Homo sapiens: one gene and its partner. The protein of the gene in region 2 purifies or fractionates together with the protein of the main gene of each other region. This does not show direct contact. Each region holds a gene or a part of one and is shown on either strand. Other genes may lie near its edges.

Region 1 (3,612 bases), on a different chromosome or scaffold from region 2:
ACAAAAAAATCTTAAAAATTAGCCGGGCATGGTGGCACACACCTGTGGTCCCAGGTACTACGAAGGCTGAGGTGGGTGGATTGCTTGGGCCTGGGAGGTTGAGGCTACAGTAAGCCATGATTGTGACGCCGCACTCCAGCCTGGGCAACAGAGTGAGACTCTGACTCAAAAATAAATAAATAAATTTGTATGCCTTTTCTCCTATTAATCTGCCTCTTGTCAGCTGATTTCCAGCAAACTTTCAGAGGGCAAAGGGTAAGTTTTCCCTTGACCCCTCCAAACCAGTGAACAAAGAAAGCAAGCTTAAGAAGAGGTTTACCTGTGTGAATTGGTCACCCAAGGGGATAGAGCCTCAAGCCAACACAGCCCTGGGTGTGCCACTCTTTCTAAAAGCCTGTGCCCTGAGGCAGTGATTAAATGACTCCTACCCTGGCTTTTGGTTTTGTTTTAGTAAAAATGAGGCCTTTCTACTTTTTCAGAGAAGGGAAGTGTCACAGTTTGAAAAGCTAGTAAAAGTTATGGACTCTTTCCCTAGAGCAGGGCCAAAATACACATATACAATTTTTTAAACATCATTTCAGGGGCTTCACAGTTCTCCTAAACGTACATCCAGGGATTCCAGGTTAAAAGCCCCATTCTGACAGAAAAAAGATAACAAAGGAAGTATTGTAATGTGAGAATTGTAGAAACTAGGTGGCGGATATATAGGGGTTCACTGTACAATTCCTCCAACTTTTCTGTATGTTTAAAACTTTTCTGGCCAGGTGCAGTGGCTCATGCCTGTAATCCCAGCACCTTGGGAGACCGAGGCGGGCAGATCACTTGAGCTCAGGAGTTTGAGACCAGCCTGAGCAATATGGTGAGACCCCGTTTCTACAAAAAATTAGCCGGGCATGGTGGTTCACGCCTGTGGTCCCAGCCACTTGGACACTGAGGTGGAATGATCACCTGAGCCCAGGGGGCAGAAGTTGCAGTGGCCCGAGATTGCACCGCTGTACTCCACCCTGGGTGACAGAGCGAGACCGTGTCTGAAACAAACAAACAAACAAAAAAGGCCAGGCACAGTGGCTCACGCCTGTAATCCCAGCACTGTGGGAGGCCAAGGCAGGTAGATCACTTAAGGTCAGGAGTTTGAGACCAGCCTGGTCAACATGGTGAAACCCTGTCTCTACTAAAAATACAAAAATTAGCTGGGTGTGGTGGCTCATGCCTGTAGTCCCAGCTACTTGAGAGGCTGAGGCAGGAGAATCGCTTGAATCCAGGAGGTGGAGGTTGCAGTGAGCCAAGATTGTGCCACTGCACTCCAGCCTGAGCAACAGAGCAAGACTCTGTCTCAAAAAGAAAAAAAAAGTTGGGAGGAAAACAAAACCCCTGTTTTTAATAAGGGCAAATGATGCCAAGCGCTAAAAATATAACTTTTGTGTTATAAGCACAGTTCTATTCTCATCATTTTTCCAATTCGTGATATTAATAAAACTAATTTCCTCCTGTGGATAATGGGAAGATATGGATATTTTACAGGGAGACATTCCCATATTGTGAGCTTTTAGACTATTACTACTAAAGACTATTAATATTTCTGTTACATGTAATATTTTTATAATTGTGAGTGAACTAATTCTCTGTTCCTCAGTCAAGAGGACATCTACAGCTAACTGAGCTATTTCTTTACTTTCTTAGGTAGCTTCATTTTACCCCAAAGTATTTTGAGGGGTCCACAATACAAGCTCTATTAACTGCCATTTATATTTATTTCCTTTGGATTTTTCTGAGCCCACTTCACACTGGCACTGTGATGGCCCCAGTTAAATACCTCCCCACGGCCTCTGCCGTTCTGCCTACAAACCAAGCCAGCCACACATCCCTCCCTAGAGTCACTGGGACACACAGGTGAGTCGCCACATCTGCACTGTGGGAATTACTAAAGAAATGACGCCTGTAATCTCAGCTACTCGGGAGGCTGAGGCAGGAGAATAACCTGAAGCCGGGAGGCGGAGGTTGCAGTGAGTCGAGATCACACCACTGCACTCCAGCCTGGGCAACAGAGCAAGACTCCATCTCAAAAAAAAAAAGAAGAAATGACTCTTCTGTCATCAGATGGGACTGCAGATGGCAGATGTGCCCTACTGACAATTGACCAAGACCATGCATGACCACCTACTAGATTTTCAATCAGCTTTTAATTCCAACCACCAATCTAGGTTCTTTTCTTTTTTTTTTGAGACGGAGTCTCGCTCTGTCGCCCAGGCTGGAGTGCAGTGGTGCGGTCTCGACTCACTGCAAGCTCTGCCTCCTGGATTCAAGTGATTCTCCTGCCTCAGTCTCCCTAGTAGCTGGGACTACAGGCGCCTGCCACCACGCCCGGCTAATTTTTTTGTATTTTTAATAGACACGGGGTTTCACCATGTTAGCCAGGATGGTCTTGATCTCCTGATCTCGTGATCTGCCCACCTCAGCCTCCCAAAGTGTTGGGATTACAGGTGTGAGCCACTGTGCCCAGCCCAATCTAGGTTCTTGTTTATGAAATGCAGAGATAACTTTGTAATCTCTTTTTGAGGATAATACCTAGAAATAAGAAAGACCTGTCAAGAAATCAGTTCCCTGAATAATCATTATATTCAGGATTAAGGCAAACCCAAAATGTACCTGAGCATTTATAAGAACCTTTCATAAATTAAGGCTCCCAGCTACCAATCCTGTTACCTCCCAGCTGGCTCTGAGCCACTTCCCAGCCCACAAACACGGAAATATCTTGGCTGTGGGTCAGCAGGGCAGACCACAATACTCTTCTGAGACCCAGAGAGTTTATGAGATGGTGGGACACCCTAAGAAAACCTAACTTGTCCTGGTCCAAAGCAATGGCTGCCCAATTAGGCAAAGGCTGTGAAAGTGAGCTCAGCTCAAGGCGAGCGACTGAAAGGAATGTTGTGTGTCTACATGCACGCATGGGCTGGAGGTGGTGGGGGCCACTTACGGTTCAACCCAGTGAAGCTGAACATGCCAATTTGATCAGTGATGTGGTTCCAGGTCCCAGGGGTTTTGAGGGCTTCTAGTCGTGCCCTGAGTTCAGATCTCATGGTCAGAATCCGGTCAGCCATTGTCTTCACATTACCTGTCCTGAAGCATGGACAGTGACGTAAATACCAATCCAGACAGGAAAGATGGTACCCGAAAACACACAGGTTTAAAAACTCTAATTTAAACGACAGCTGACAATGGGATCATAACCTGCCTATTATGGCATGTGGATGTCTGGATGGGTGGATTAACATACCAGAGAGAGAGACTTAGGGGGCAGAAGGAAAGGACTGCATTTACTAGTGAGTCTAGTGCTAGTCTTGGGTATACTGGCTAGAATACACTCACATTTCAACTCAGGCTTCACCGAGGTGCTGCTATAGATATTAATAGGGCAATATGTTTCATCAGGACTTACTAAATAAAGATTGCAGATTTAGCTACTATATAAAAATTACTGTTCTAAAATAAGATAAAGTGTATGTAAATTACAGATAAAAACCAAGAGCTCCCAAACTGTTAAACTGCCTAGACGTTCGATATTCTATTTTGCTGGGAATACCTTCTTGGGTTTTCCAACTTCATGGAGAGGAA
Region 2 (4,120 bases):
TCAATTTTAGAAGAATTCATGTTGATCTTATAGGGGCTCTTTTCAAACTGATGTCTTACCTTTCTTAGTGCCTCAAACTAGATCCTGTTCAAACACCTTATAACAAGTTAGTAGGAGTTTATTTTGGTGCAAAATAATTCAAAATCCATGCATAGTTTTTTTCATAATATGCATTTTCCATGAACTTTTTGATGACCTCTTGTATGAAAGGGGATTTATTAGGGGAATGAACTCATGCAATTTTGGAGGCTGAGAAATCCCATGACAGACCACCTGCAAGCTGGAGACCCTGGGATGCAGGTAACATGCTCAGTTCAAGTCCTAAAGCCTCAGAACTAGGAAGCCACTGGTGTAATTCTCACTTTGGGATAGAAAGCCTGAGAACCCAGGGAGATGCTGATATTAAGTCCTGGAGTCCAAAGTCTGGAGTTATAATGTCCAAAGGCAGGAGAGAATGCCCCAGCTCCAGGAGAGACAGAAAATCACCTTTTCTCTGTCTTTTCCATGCCATCCATGCCCCCGGCCAGTTGGATGGATCCCACCTACGTTGAGGGTAGATGTTCCCCACTAGTACACTGACTTACACACCAATCTTCTTTGGAAACACCCTCATAGACTTACCCCAAACTAATGTATTACCAGTTCTTTAAGTATTCCTTAAACCAGTCAAATTGACACTTAAAATTTACTATCACGCTACCTATACTAGAGATAGTGATCTAGAGTCCATTGAGGTGGCTAGAGTGCTCAGGAGCTGGCTTTGCTACAGTAATACTCCCTTCTTCCATGGAGAAGCAGCATGCACAGTGGCTCTGAGAAGCTGGAGGAGGGTCACTGGAGTGAGTGGGCTTCTGGTCTGAAATTGACCAAGAATATAGTTCCTGTGGACCAGGAGTGATTAGAAGCTACAGAGGTCTTAAGAGACCTATCCCTCCTCAGTCTACCTTGCACTTACTGAGGGCTCCCACTCTTAGGAATAATTCCATCGTTTCATTTTGTGGCATCAGAGATGAGTCATTGACCCGGAAGAAGTCCCGTAATGTTTCTCAACTCAGTATCTGTGACTATATTTCCTGCTCTTAAAAGTTTAGCATGCCCTCATGTTTCAGGTTGCTTGGAGAAGTCTTAACCATGCTGTTCACATAAAGAGTCACTAAATCCTCTGGCATCAGGAACTAGAAAATATCCTGAGTGTTGGGCAGTGCCAGACTTAGTGAGGCAGAACTTCCTTCCTTGCCCATGTGGATAAAAGGCCTGGGCCCTGTTACAGCCTGTCAGAAAACCCAAGTGCAGTAGAAGCCATTGTTCATAATGGTAGGGATACAGGGTCCTTCGTAACAGATTATCAGTGTGGCCTATGCTGGAAAGTCTGGTGACCTCTGATTTTTTTTGCTTCCAGGTCTTTGGCCTTGGCACTCTTTGTCATATTAGAGTTCCTGGGTCTAGGCCTGGGCAGGATTCATAGGTGCAGCTGCTTCTGCTGGAGGTAGACTGCATCCAACAAAGTAAGGGTGCTGGGTGAGTTCTGGGAGTATAGATTCTGACTGGGGTCACTGCTGGGCTGGCCGCCAGTCTTTCATCTGACCCAGGGTTAAACTGTGGCTTGGGACTGACTCAGGTCCTCTCTTGGGGTCGGTCTGCACATAAAAGGACTCCTATCCTTGGCAGTTCTGAAACAACACCACCACAATGGAAAAAGGTAAAGATCCTCGTGGAAGGGCGAAAAATTGACAAGGGGGTGATATTCTGTGCTCTCATTCTTACTAATTTACATTTTGACTTTCTCAACAGCATTGAAAATTGACACACCTCAGCAGGGGAGCATTCAGGATATCAATCATCGGGTGTGGGTTCTTCAGGACCAGACGCTCATAGCAGTCCCGAGGAAGGACCGTATGTCTCCAGGTGAGTAGCCACGGTCTGTGAAAGGCAGCTCCTTTGGCCAGTGCTGTTGTGTGTTTGGTGCTCAGATGTTATTCCACAGTGGGCTTGTTAACCGGGCATATCTACAGAGAGGAGCATCTCACAGACAATAATGAATAGAGGGTGAGCATAAGGTTGTTCTGGGACTATGGTCATGAAGTCAGAGAAGAGAGAGAAGGCTTAAGGGAGACTGAAGGGTCAGCCTATGAAAAACAGTGGAAGACGTATTCTGAGAAACTTCAAGGAGTAAGAGTAGGACAAAAGAGGGTAATCTATGGGAGGACCAGTTTTTGAATCCATGAAAGACTGACTTTTCTAATGGAAAGTGTTCCCCAAACATAGGATGGGTGTCCCGGTTAGGTGGTGGGTGGTGAGGTGACCATTCTATGAGTGCACTGTGAGTGTCAGTTAGCAGATTCCCTTAAAACTCTGGCTCAGAGGTACCACCCTGGAAATGGCAGCTGAACACCACTTTTCACATCGTGTTCCCAGTCACTATTGCCTTAATCTCATGCCGACATGTGGAGACCCTTGAGAAAGACAGAGGGAACCCCATCTACCTGGGCCTGAATGGACTCAATCTCTGCCTGATGTGTGCTAAAGTCGGGGACCAGCCCACACTGCAGCTGAAGGTGAGTGTGGAAGACAGGTCCTGCCATTTATTTGATGGAAACTCAGATTTCAGGATCTTTTAAAAGACAATGTACTTATTATGCTCATGCATTTTTATTTTTGGTTTCCTTGGGGTTGGTATATGTTATGAAAGACTAAGAAAAATTGCAGGGACATTTTGAAACAAACCTACTAAAATGACTTATTATTTTAATTTACAAAAATATTAATAATTTGGCAAGGATGATGTCTAACTTCAATAGAACACACACACAGAGTAAAATCAGCAAGGACATTTTAGCAGTTAATTATCACAAAGTAGACGAACTTATTAAAACATCTTTTTGGCAAAAAATACATTGCAACTTTAAATGAACAAACATAATTCTCTGTAATAAACACTTCAATAATCGCAATTTTCCATTATTAAAAAAAGATAATTATAGCAGGCCTCTGTGTACTACAGGAACTCTCTTGACCCTTTTCAGTAAACAAGCATAAGCAGACACTCAACTTGATGACAAGATATAAAACAGTGTTTTTCAGCCAGGGGTGATATTGCTCCAGGGACATTTGTCAATGTCTGGAGATGTTTTGGTTGTGACAACCTGGGATGGGGGTGTGATACTTGCATTTATCGGGTAGATGACAGGGATGCTACTAAACATCCTATATTATTATACAGGACAGACCCTGAAAACAAAGAATCATCTTGCCTAAAATGTCAATAGTGCTGAAGGTGCAGAAACCTGACAGAAAATAACTGTTTTAATTTGAAATTTACAGTAACTGTTACATAAATATTCTTTAAGTTTCTGTTTCTGAACAACAAATAATGGCCCAATCAATGCTTTGTATTCTCAAAAACTTTCATGTCAACACATTTTTCAGAGCCTCACATTAAAAACCATTAAAATTTGTAGCCTGAGTTTCAACCATAATCTTAAAAGAATTTAATTTATATGATTTTCAATCCCATAATATGAAACAGAGGTCTCCAAGCTGCTTCAATGAGTAGGGAATGCTATCCTTGGACGTGGAATATCAGTGTGTAAAGAATGTGAAACATTCAAACAGTTATGTTTCTTGCTGGTGTCTCCTTCGCACCCTTCAGGAAAAGGATATAATGGATTTGTACAACCAACCCGAGCCTGTGAAGTCCTTTCTCTTCTACCACAGCCAGAGTGGCAGGAACTCCACCTTCGAGTCTGTGGCTTTCCCTGGCTGGTTCATCGCTGTCAGCTCTGAAGGAGGCTGTCCTCTCATCCTTACCCAAGAACTGGGGAAAGCCAACACTACTGACTTTGGGTTAACTATGCTGTTTTAAGGTCAGTTGGGTTTGGAGGATAGTCTCCATGCAGGGAAAATCTTAGTATAATCTTAGCCTGGAATGGGCAGGGAGAATTTGTTATTGGACTTTCCACCTAAGAGTATCTTGCTGCCTCCCAATATATTCATGCAGTGACCTAAGTGCTGGACTGGTCCCTCTCCCTGGGGCCATGTGGAAAATAGTCCAGGGAAATTGAGGGCCTTGCCATGAGCATGTGGCTGAAATATGGCACCATTACAAAAATAATAAGGAAAG

Evidence for each region. Proteins that work in one complex are often made in the same cells at the same time.
Region 1: the proteins of IL36A (region 2) and GOT1 purify together in Homo sapiens (affinity purification with mass spectrometry; one large-scale study listed by BioGRID and IntAct). This does not show direct contact.

The regions. Positions count from the first base shown.
Region 1 is NC_000010.11:99,399,606-99,403,217, forward strand, and holds part of GOT1 (aspartate aminotransferase, cytoplasmic), read right to left. Parts: intron 3,118-3,612; coding exon 2,975-3,117; intron 1-2,974. UniProt on the Homo sapiens protein: Biosynthesis of L-glutamate from L-aspartate or L-cysteine. Important regulator of levels of glutamate, the major excitatory neurotransmitter of the vertebrate central nervous system. Acts as a scavenger of glutamate in brain neuroprotection.
Region 2 is NC_000002.12:113,004,183-113,008,302, forward strand, and holds IL36A (interleukin-36 alpha), read left to right. Parts: upstream 1-1,276; 5' UTR 1,277-1,689; coding exon 1,690-1,699; intron 1,700-1,791; coding exon 1,792-1,905; intron 1,906-2,415; coding exon 2,416-2,555; intron 2,556-3,649; coding exon 3,650-3,862; downstream 3,863-4,120. UniProt on the Homo sapiens protein: Cytokine that binds to and signals through the IL1RL2/IL-36R receptor which in turn activates NF-kappa-B and MAPK signaling pathways in target cells linked to a pro-inflammatory response.